2 separate regions of the Homo sapiens genome follow, and region 1 is reported to be linked to region 2. Evidence: microRNA targets listed by miRTarBase, many of them from high-throughput screens and not tested one by one. Region 2 holds a microRNA gene; the other region holds the end of a gene's coding sequence.

The links. Region 2 holds the annotated microRNA hsa-miR-30b-3p (CUGGGAGGUGGAUGUUUACUUC, at 2,351-2,372, opposite strand). A microRNA usually pairs through its seed, bases 2 to 8, with sites in the 3' UTR of a target mRNA and lowers its output. Matches are read on the target gene's strand: a 7mer-m8 pairs with bases 2 to 8, a 7mer-A1 pairs with bases 2 to 7 and ends in A, and an 8mer does both.
Region 1: the mRNA of GEN1 is a reported target of hsa-miR-30b-3p. Seed matches in the 3' UTR shown: 7mer-m8 at 1,932-1,938 and 7mer-m8 at 2,100-2,106.

What each region holds. Positions count from the first base shown.
Region 1 is chr2:17,781,214-17,786,452 of GRCh38, forward strand. GEN1 (GEN1 Holliday junction 5' flap endonuclease) reads left to right here. Exons shown (of 14, transcript NM_001130009.3): 14 at 1-5,239. The coding sequence ends at 726. The region is part of intron 3 of LOC105373449 (a long non-coding RNA gene); the gene reads right to left. Among named protein-coding and RNA genes, the nearest start is that of GEN1, 30 kb to the left of the region's middle.
Region 2 is chr8:134,798,182-134,803,420 of GRCh38, forward strand. It overlaps MIR30B (microRNA 30b), which reads right to left and starts at 2,426; the gene lies at 2,339-2,426. It also overlaps a transcript of ZFAT not described here.

The sequences.
Region 1 (5,239 bases), not on the chromosome of region 2:
TGTCTTCAGGATTTGCCTTTAAAGGAACGAATATTTACAAAATTATCATATCCTCAGGATAATCTACAACCAGATGTCAACCTGAAAACTTTGTCCATACTTAGTGTAAAAGAATCTTGTATTGCTAACAGTGGTTCTGATTGTACATCACATCTTTCAAAGGATCTTCCAGGAATTCCCTTGCAAAATGAATCCAGAGACTCTAAAATTCTAAAAGGAGACCAGCTGCTTCAAGAAGACTATAAAGTCAATACTTCTGTCCCTTATTCTGTCAGTAACACAGTGGTAAAGACCTGCAATGTTAGACCACCAAATACTGCTTTAGATCATAGTAGAAAAGTTGATATGCAAACCACTCGGAAAATTTTAATGAAGAAGAGTGTTTGCCTTGACAGACATTCCTCTGATGAACAAAGTGCCCCAGTGTTTGGGAAAGCTAAGTACACAACTCAAAGAATGAAGCACAGTTCTCAAAAGCATAATTCATCCCATTTCAAAGAAAGTGGCCATAACAAGTTGAGTAGCCCTAAGATACATATTAAAGAAACTGAACAGTGTGTCAGATCTTATGAAACAGCTGAAAATGAAGAAAGCTGTTTCCCAGATTCAACAAAAAGTTCTCTGAGTTCTCTACAATGTCATAAGAAAGAAAACAACTCTGGTACTTGTTTGGATAGCCCTCTTCCTTTACGCCAGAGATTAAAACTAAGATTCCAAAGCACTTGAAATTTAAAACACTTAGGTATAACTTAACTATTTTAGTACTATCAGCAATAGCAGAGACAGAGGGAAGGTATCTAGTTCATGTGTGGTAAAAATTTTAATGTTCTCTGTGTCATGAAACACTTGCCATTTTAATCAAAGTTGTAATTTTTAAAAAGTCACCTAAAACTCTGGTTTTAAAAGATCCTCTGTATTGAAAACTTCTGATAATGTATGTCATTATGTCCTTACTATTCCTTAATTGTAGTTTTAAAATATTGGTATAGTACTTGACAGAGTAAATACTTCATCTGATTGTTCATTTTTACTTTTTCTTCCACAAGCCTCTAAAGTATTTATATTCCAGCTTGTTCCCAAGAGGATAATTCTTTATACTTCTCTTCATTCTTTTAAGGCCTTGCAAGGTCTTCCGTTATAACTCGCTTTCCTAAAAGCTATTTTCTCCCTCAGTGTGAAGATACCTTTAGTGTGCTCTTCCACTTTGGAAGGCCATGCAAGGTGTTCCATTATAACTCTTTTTCCTAAGAGTTATATTCTCCCTCAGTTTGAAGATACCTTTAGTGTGCTCTTCCACTTTTGGTGTCTTAGTCTCTTTTGAGGGGCAAAAATAGAAAAGGAGAGAAGATGTCAGTATGTTTAGTAAAAATCATGCTCGTAATGGCTGAATAAACTGAGCAAAGTAACTCCTTATGTATCCCCAGAAGTTCACAGGTATATCGGGTGGAAAAAGATTTGGAAAATCAAATGTATAACCAAAAGGATTAGAAACTAGCCCAGGATCACGTAGCTAACTAATAATCCTGTGGGAATCAGTTTTCTTGCCTGCTAATTTTTTTATTTTTCTATTTTTTCCTTCTATAGCACTTTTCCCCCTTTTGTTTTGAATCTATGCAATATTGACTTTAATACCACCAAATATTAAGTCATGCATTAATTTAGGTCGCACTCAAAAATTCTAGAGAGGCATCCAGATTGAAAAGGAAAATGGTGTCTGCAGATGACAAGATTGTATGCATCAAAAATTCTAAGAAATCCACTAGAAAACTATTAAAACTGATAAAGCGAGTTCATCCAGGTCGTAGAATACAAGACCAATGTGCAATGATCATTGCATTTTGTTTTTGTTTGTTTGTTTTTTTTTGAGACAGAGTCTCACTCTTGTCGAGACTGGGGTGTAGTGGCGCCATCTTGGCTCACTGCAACCTCTGCCTCCCAGGTTCACGCAATTCACATGCCTCAGCCACCTGAGTAGCAGGGATTACAGGTGTGTGCCACCATGCCTGGCTAATTTTTAGTATTTTTAGTAGAGATGGGATTTTCCCTTGTTGGTCAGGCTAGTCATGAACTCCTGGCCTCAAGCGATCCACCCATCTTGGCCTCCCAGAGTGCTGGGATTACAGGTGTGAATCACCATACTCAGCCTCAATTGTATTTCTGTACACCTCTAAATAAATGGAAATACATTCCATGTTCATGAATCAGAAGACATAAGATGACCATACTCCCCAAACTGATCTACAGGTTAAATGTAATTCCCATTAATTCCAGCTGGTTTCTTTGCTGATTCTAAAATTCATATGGAAATTTCAGGAACACAGAATATTAGGAAGAATCTTGAAAGAGTTTGAATGACCCACCCTTCCTGATTTTAAGTATACAGAACTACAGTAATGAATGTGTTGTACTGGTATAAAGGTAGACATATAGGTCAATATAGATCAATGGCATAGAATTGAGAATTCAGAAAAAAAGCCTTCACGTTTATGGTCAGTTGATTTTAAACCAGAGTGCCAAGACAATTCAATGGGAAAAGGAAACAGTCTTTGAACCAACTGTCTTCTGGATCTATTGGATATCTATGTAAAAAAGAGTGACATTTGATTCCTACTTCACATGATATTTAAGAAGTAACTTAAGATGGATCAAATACCTAAATGTAAGCTAAAGCTATAAAACTCTTAGAAGAAAACATAGACGTAAATCTTTGTGACTTTGGATTAGGCAAGGATTTCTTAAATATACCCAAAGCATAGGCAACAAAAGAGAATACACAAACTGGACTTCATCAAAACTAAAAACTGTTGTTTGAAATGACACCATCAAGAAAGTGAAAAGACAGCTTACAGAATGGGAGAAAATATTTGCAAATCATAAATGTGATAAGGGACTTGTATCTTGGTGGTATATAAAGAACTCGTAACTCAATTATAAAAAGACAACTTTGAAATGGGCAAAATAGCTCAACAGGCTTTTCTGCAAAGAAGAAATACAAATGACCAAGAAGCACATTTAAAAATTTTCAGTACTATTACTCATCAGGAAAATGCAAATCAAAACCACAAGACACCCAATGTCTACAATCAAAAAGATAATAACTAGTATTGATGAGGATGTGGAGAAATTGAAATTCTCATAACATGCTGGTAGGAATGTAAAATGGGGCAGCCACTTTGGAAAAAGTCTGGTAGTTCTTCAAATGGTTAAATGTAGAGTTACGATATGATCCAGCAATTCCTCTCCCAGGTATATACCCAAGATAAATGAAAACTTATATCCACATAAAAACCTGTGCACAAATGTCCATAGCAGCGTTATTCATAATAGCCTAAAAGTGGAAACAATCCCAGTTCCAGAATGAGGAAGGGGAGAAACTAATGTGTATTAGCTATTGTGTGCTAAGCATTCAACTAGATTATTTACAAACCTTGTATCATCTCAACTCTTTAAGGACTGTATTGCAATGTTTTGAATATTCAGAGAGAAAAAAGTCGTTGCTAAAACATTTTCCAAGGTTCTGCTTATTCTGATTTGTTCAGTCGTGGCTGTGATAGTTCAGGACCATCTAGACCAGGTAAATAAAATATCTAGAGGCATTCTTGAGATTGTATGAGATGAAAATAACAAAATTAGTTGGGAGTGGCCAGTCTGAGTTCATTTTGCTATATAGCTCAGGAGTCCCCAACCCCTGGGCTATGGACAGGTACCAGTCCATCACCTGTCAGGAACCGGCCTGCACAGCAGGTGTTGAGCGGCATGCAAGCGAGAATTACCGCCTGAGCTCTGCCTCCTGTCAGATCAGCGGTGGCATTAGAGTCTCATAGGAGCATGAACCCTATTGTGAACTACGCATGCGAGGATCTAGTTTGTGCACTCCTACTGAGAATCTAATGCCTGATGATATAAGGTGGAACAGCTTCATCCCACAGCCATCTCCCCCTCATCATCCGTGGAAAAACTGTTTTCCACGAAAGTGGTCCTCGGTGCCAGAAAGGTTGGGGACTGCTGATATACCTAATATAGGCATAAGTGTAAAATTATAGTTCCTCCTCCTCAAGGATTTCTCTGTTTTCATTGTCCAGGTTATACCAATTCTTTTTAAAGCATTCCATGTTCTTGTTCCTTGATGTGGTCATGTTATCACTTGTAAATCAAATCTTTTAAGTTGCTGCTTACGTATTTGCTCATCACTTCATTGTCTTGTTGAGGATGCCTTGCTTCCCTTTGAAATACTCTGCCAAAGATCTGCCTCCAGCTGCTAGGATCCTGTAATTGGTTTCTTTCTGATGGCTCCATGCTAAGGCCCTGCTCTGGCCTAACTGCTTTGGGCTTTGTGTAATCAATCTTAAGTCCTTGGCGGTTTTTCTTTTAGATTTTTTTCCATATAAAATCTCTATCTGGCCACACATGGTGGCCGTGCCTGTAATCCCAGCACGCTGGGAGGCTGAGGCGGGTGGATTGCTTGAGGCCAGGAGTTCAAGACCAGCCTGGCCAACATGGTGAAACCCCATCTCTACTAAAAATACAAAAATCAGTGGGGCCTGGTGGCGTGCACCTGTAATCCCAGCTACTCGGGAAGCTGAGGCAGGAGAATCGCTTGAACCTGGGAGGCAGAGGTTGCAGTGAGCTGAGATAGTGCCACTGCACTTCACTCCAGGATGGGCGAAAAAGTGTCTAAAAAAAATTAAAATTTAAATTAAAAAAAAATATACAATCTCCGTCTTCTAGATTTTATAATGAGGACTCTACTTTTTCCTTTTGGGTAGCATGGCTTGAGCCATCTTGTCAGGCATACCTAGCTTCAGATTCTTTTCTGCTAACAGATTTTCTCTGTGACCCTGGAGACATTTTCTAACTTTTCTGAGACTCATTTATTCAAATGTTTATGTGACAGGCATTGTGCTGGGCCCTGGAGATACAGTGATCAATGGCATCCTATAAGGTTTTGATATCTGTGAAGTCACTGCCACCATTGACACATTCTAGGGACTCAGTAAATTGTAGCTGTGTCCGATACCATCATTTGGAAAGAGCACTATCAGATTTTGGATTCAAACTGAATGCAGCCAAGCACTGCCTTTTGGTAAAAATGTGGACACAGTAACACTAGTAGGGGGCAGTGTGAGGGTGGGAGATGTGTTTTCAGAAGAAGGAAACTCTAGATTAGCATCACACAAGGGATCCTAACGTGGCATTTGAGCTACTGGAAAAAAATTGTGCTTGCTTAAATATAATGTGG
Region 2 (5,239 bases):
ATAATTCATGCCAAATGCTCACCAAATAATTATAAGATACCAAATCTTCAAAATTCACAGAAAAAAGTTCAAGTTTAATTTCAGAACATATCCCAAAATTATCAAAGACATCCAATTTTACATTATGTTATCTATTAATACCAAATGGCAATATGGTAAACAAGAGGGGAAAACTGAGACATTTTAACATATATCCAGATTTCATAACATTTAAAACTGATAAGCACACATTAATCAGAAAATATGTGATTAGAATATATTTACTAAAATTCTGTAACAATTCTAATAAATATACAGTGTTTTAAAAAATGAAGGCATGTACCTTCCTGTAAGGGTGGGAGACAGCTAACTGTAAGTAGAATGTTTCACTGCATTAATTCAAACAAGAAAAATACTCAAATTTTCACTTAAGTACAACATAGTTTCATGTATAGCTTCTTCTAAGAGACAAAGTGAGGCAAATCTGATAGCCCACATGATCAAAGACCTTATTACATAATCAGGAATGTATGTAATATAAAGATATAAACATATGGCCATTAAACAAGAAGAAAAAAGGCAATGAATTAAACACTAGAATTAGGAATTTAACCTACAGGCTATTTTGTAGCCTAAACCACATGCATATGCTGAGTATTTTTCACATCTAGCATATGAAAGAAAAATTCTATATTTTATGCACTGAGGTTCAAAAACAAATTGATGGGCAATTCCCAAATATGCTTAATTTGGGAGAAAAACACTTCATAAAACTACCTTTACATTATATGCTTTGTAATGCATTGCAATATGTTTCTCAAAGTACTATAAATTATAAAATAATGTAAAAATTTGGCAAGTTTCAAATTAACATGTGGAGCTCACTAAAACATAGTATGCTATGCACCTAAGTACAGAATAAAACAGCTCTCTCGTAATGACAAAGAAAATTAACAAATTATTCATTAAACAAATAAAATATATAATTAGAAAAACAGCACTCACCTTCAACAAGTCTCCATGCTTTCATTTCACATTTTTATTTAATCATGTATTTCTCATAACATTTAGACATCTTCCACAGGAGCACCAAGCATGAATTCTAATTCTGGATTTAGGCACAGGCAAGAGCATACAGACACTTGCCAAGCTGCTAGGATGTGTGTACTTCTTACATAATTTTCGTTTTATACTTGTTTGTTTTGCTTTTCACCTATACAGAATGTGGATGTATCACCAAAAAAAGAAAAGGCAGGCTGATTTCATGGAACTGAAAAACAAAGCTATAAAAAATTAATTTTCAGTATTTTAAGTAAAGACATGAAAATGGAAATAACGTTTAGACCAATCAGTACATATATAGAACTAATTATCAGGTATTAGCTTATTTTTAAATTGTTACCTCATTTAGTCTCAACAATCCTATCAGGTAGGTGCTATTATAATTTCAATTTAGTCGACTGAGGAAACTGAGGCACAGAGAGATTAATAACTTCCCCCAAAGTAACATAGCGAAGTAACTCGCAGAATCAAGATATGAGCTCCAGAAGCTGGGATTCAAAATTCTTTGCCACTATATTACAACAATATCAAAGATTCAAAGCATTTCCATTAAACCAAAAAGTTGGCATCATCTTTATTGCAAAAATAAAAACAAGTTATGTCTGCTTTAAGCATTATGGCAACTATTTACTGAACACCTACAACACAGCATTAATAATAACTAGCATTTATTGAGTACTTAATATGACAGGTACTGTACTAATGAACAACTTTATATTCATCATGTAAGTCAATCCATGCAATCACATACTTATTTTACAGATGAGAAAACCACTGAGGTATGGAAACAGTGCCTTTCCCTCCTCCAAATCCCGTAGCAAATTCACTTGTGGAGTCCAGATGGCAACAAATGTCTGATGTCAAAGCCCATGCTTGTTAAAGCACACTGCAATACTACAAACCCGACCCCAACTACCAAACAAGGGCATTCTTTTGTCCCAATACCCAGAGCCTTATGTCATGTTAGTGCTATAGCAAAATTGAAAAGATACAATAAAAATTTAAATTGAGTAACAAATTTAAAGGAATTTTAATAAATTTAGAGTAATTTTTCCTCTATAAGCATACTGTTTTTCTGTTTTAACTACTCCTACTGCAACCATGCTTTCTTCTGCTTTTCTCTGCAAACATATTCAAGTAGATCCCTGCCAGCTAGACAATTAACACACTTTTTCTCTGGGAGAACAAAATGGTCTCACATTTCCAACAAACCTTTAATTACATTAATTACATTAAAAATTCAAGCCTCTGTATACTATTCTTGCCAAATCTTTTATCAATGTTAATTGGTTGACATTCCAAGTCAGCTGAAGTAAACATCCACCTCCCAGCCAATCCATGTATTACAGCTGAGTGTAGGATGTTTACATGAACTGAAACTTGGTTTAAAGCAGGACTTAAACTCTTTACTAAGTTTGTACGGTTCTTTACGTAAGACTCTGTTGAAAAAAAGAACAGGCACAGCATTCACATAAATGAGGCAAGACTCAATCGGAAAGATATCCTGAGAGAAAGTGTAGAATCCAAGGAAAAGGCAGAAGTGAGTTGGGTGTTTGTTTTTTTGGAAGTGGGGGCGTGTCCAGGGCAGTGGGGGGCACTACAGGCACGCTACTATGCCCGGCTAATTTTTCTTATTAATAAAATTTTTTTTAGAGACAAGGTCTCACTATATTGCCCAGGCTAGTCACAAACAAGTGATAACGTTTTTCACCAAAGGAATTTACAACAATAAATGCCGACATCCTGTAGTGTTCCATATCTAAATGTAGCTGATTATCCAGCCTTCCTATATCCTTCCCTTCAAAACAATCAAACTTGCATTTATAAGAACTTACTTGATGACCAGTATGATGCATCAACCAATCTTCATTAAGAAGATTCCTCCTTTAGGTAAAAGACAGTTAATGAAACACTGTGAGGAGCTTAGTCATCTCTCCTCCCCCTCAACCCTCTCCTCATCTTCTCCCCCACATTCAGAATTCAGATAATTTCATCTCAGGCACATCTTTCCCACACTCTGATCTCTTTCCACCTTCTACTGTTCCCAGTGTCATTAAGGTGTCTCAAAGAAATGTCTCCCCCTCTTTTTGCATTCTTTCTGATTAAAAATATATTCCCACAAATATCTCCACTAACTATTATCAGTGGTCCTACCAACACACTTGCATCAAAGAAGAGGAAATCTTCAAATTTGGAAGTAAAACTACATATAATAACCACTGCCAGCAAACTTTAAAAATCTTTGGCATTTCACAGGTAACCCAGGACTTTCAGGAACCTCGCCAGTCTCTACCTAGTCTCTTGTCCCTTCGGGCTGTTTTCCAAAAGCATTGGTTCTCAAGATTAAATACACATATACCTCCCCGCCACCCCACTCTACAACCATACTGCTTTTCTGTTTTAACTACTTCTATTACAACCGTATTTTTTTCTTCTGCTTTTCTCTGAAAACACATTCAAATAGGCCCCTCCCAGCTAGACAATTAATATACTTTTTCTCTGGGAGAAAAAATGGTCTCACATTTTCAACAAACCTTTTTATAATCAAACTTCTGGATTAATACATGTTTTTAAGTTAAGGATTTTTCTGTTTTACTTCATGTATTAATTGGGCATAATATCTAGCAGGAAAAGAATGTAAGATGAGCTCTGTGATTCTGAAAGCATGGGCCTAGAGGAGCAGCATCAGCAGTACTTGGGAACTGTGGGGGGAAAAGCACATTCTTATGTTCCACCCCAGACCTACTGAATCAGAAACTTTTTTTGCAGGGCCCAGCAATCTGTGTTTTAATCAATAAGCCCTCCAAGTAATTCTGATGCAAGCTGATATTGAACAGCAATGGACTGTTTCACCAAACCTGTTGGAAAGCTAAAGCAAAGACAGCAGTGAATGTCAAATTACTAGGAAGTTTGTAATATGGTACAGATAAGAAAAAGGCAATGCCAAAACATGTAGCATGGGTCCACCCACAATTAACCAGGCTAGGCAAAGTGTGGCAGAGACTATCTGAAACAGCCTTATTTTAAAAAGTAACTAAGCCCAAACTGATATTCAAACTAAAAAAAAGAAACAAAAATATTACCTGAGCACACACAGCAAATAATGCACATTGATCCAATGAATAAAGCTGTAACAAGAGTAGAAGGGAATCACAGAACATGCTCGACGCAATACCACATGCATGCTGGGGTTTATAGGTTCACAGTCCATTTCTGGGTAACCTCAAGCCCATGACTCATGTAGAAGGAACTGAGGTGTGGAGATCAATGAGAACAAGTCCAACAGTGTATTTATATGACTATTTCTAACCAAGAATATTTGTACAAAAGCATCTAATTTGAAATAAATTGGAAGACCCAATTTTGTAATTAGTTATTTGCTTTAAAAAGTTGTCCCTAAGTCATTTCAGACCATATACTCAGGATAAAATACTGTCATTTACAGAATGGTGTTCAGTAACTAAAAATGTTTTACTTTAAATATCAATTGGTAGAACAAATCTTAAATAATAAGTAATTTCTGTGCTTTCTAAGTCCTATCAATGAATACCACAATTTTTTTCTTCAACACTAAGTTAAGGGCTAGGGAAACAAGTTATTACAGGCTTATTGACAAATACTGATGATCTAACATTTCAAGCCATTTGCTATAAATAATCAATTGCTAACCTTATAGGCCAATGGGAAGTTAGTGGTTCTTCAATATAAAAACATAAAGAAGCCATCTGAAAACTACTAAAAAAGGCTGTACCTATGTATTATACTATACTGAAGCAAGGGCATCCAGAATTAAAACTGACATCGTCTTTGATTCACCTCATTAGAGGCAGAATAATATAGAACAAATGTTACATAACACAGATTGCCCCATTAATCTGTAGCATCTAGGGATAACTGGCCTAGCTGGGCAGAGTATAACAGCTTTATTATAAAGAATGCCTACCCCCTCATTTAGCTTAGGTTTGGCCTTATCATTTTGAAAAACCTTTCAAATTTCACTGCATAAATTATGCATCCATCTTACTAAATTTTAAAGCAGTATATCAAAATTTTTCATAAGAAATAAACAGTGTCACCTGGTCAAACAAAATAATCCTATTACCACAGAACACATTACATTCTACCTTTGGCAGGGAAGACTTCTGAGCTCAGCAATAACTATCCTTTCACTGCTATTTGAGTCTAAGGTTTCCAATGT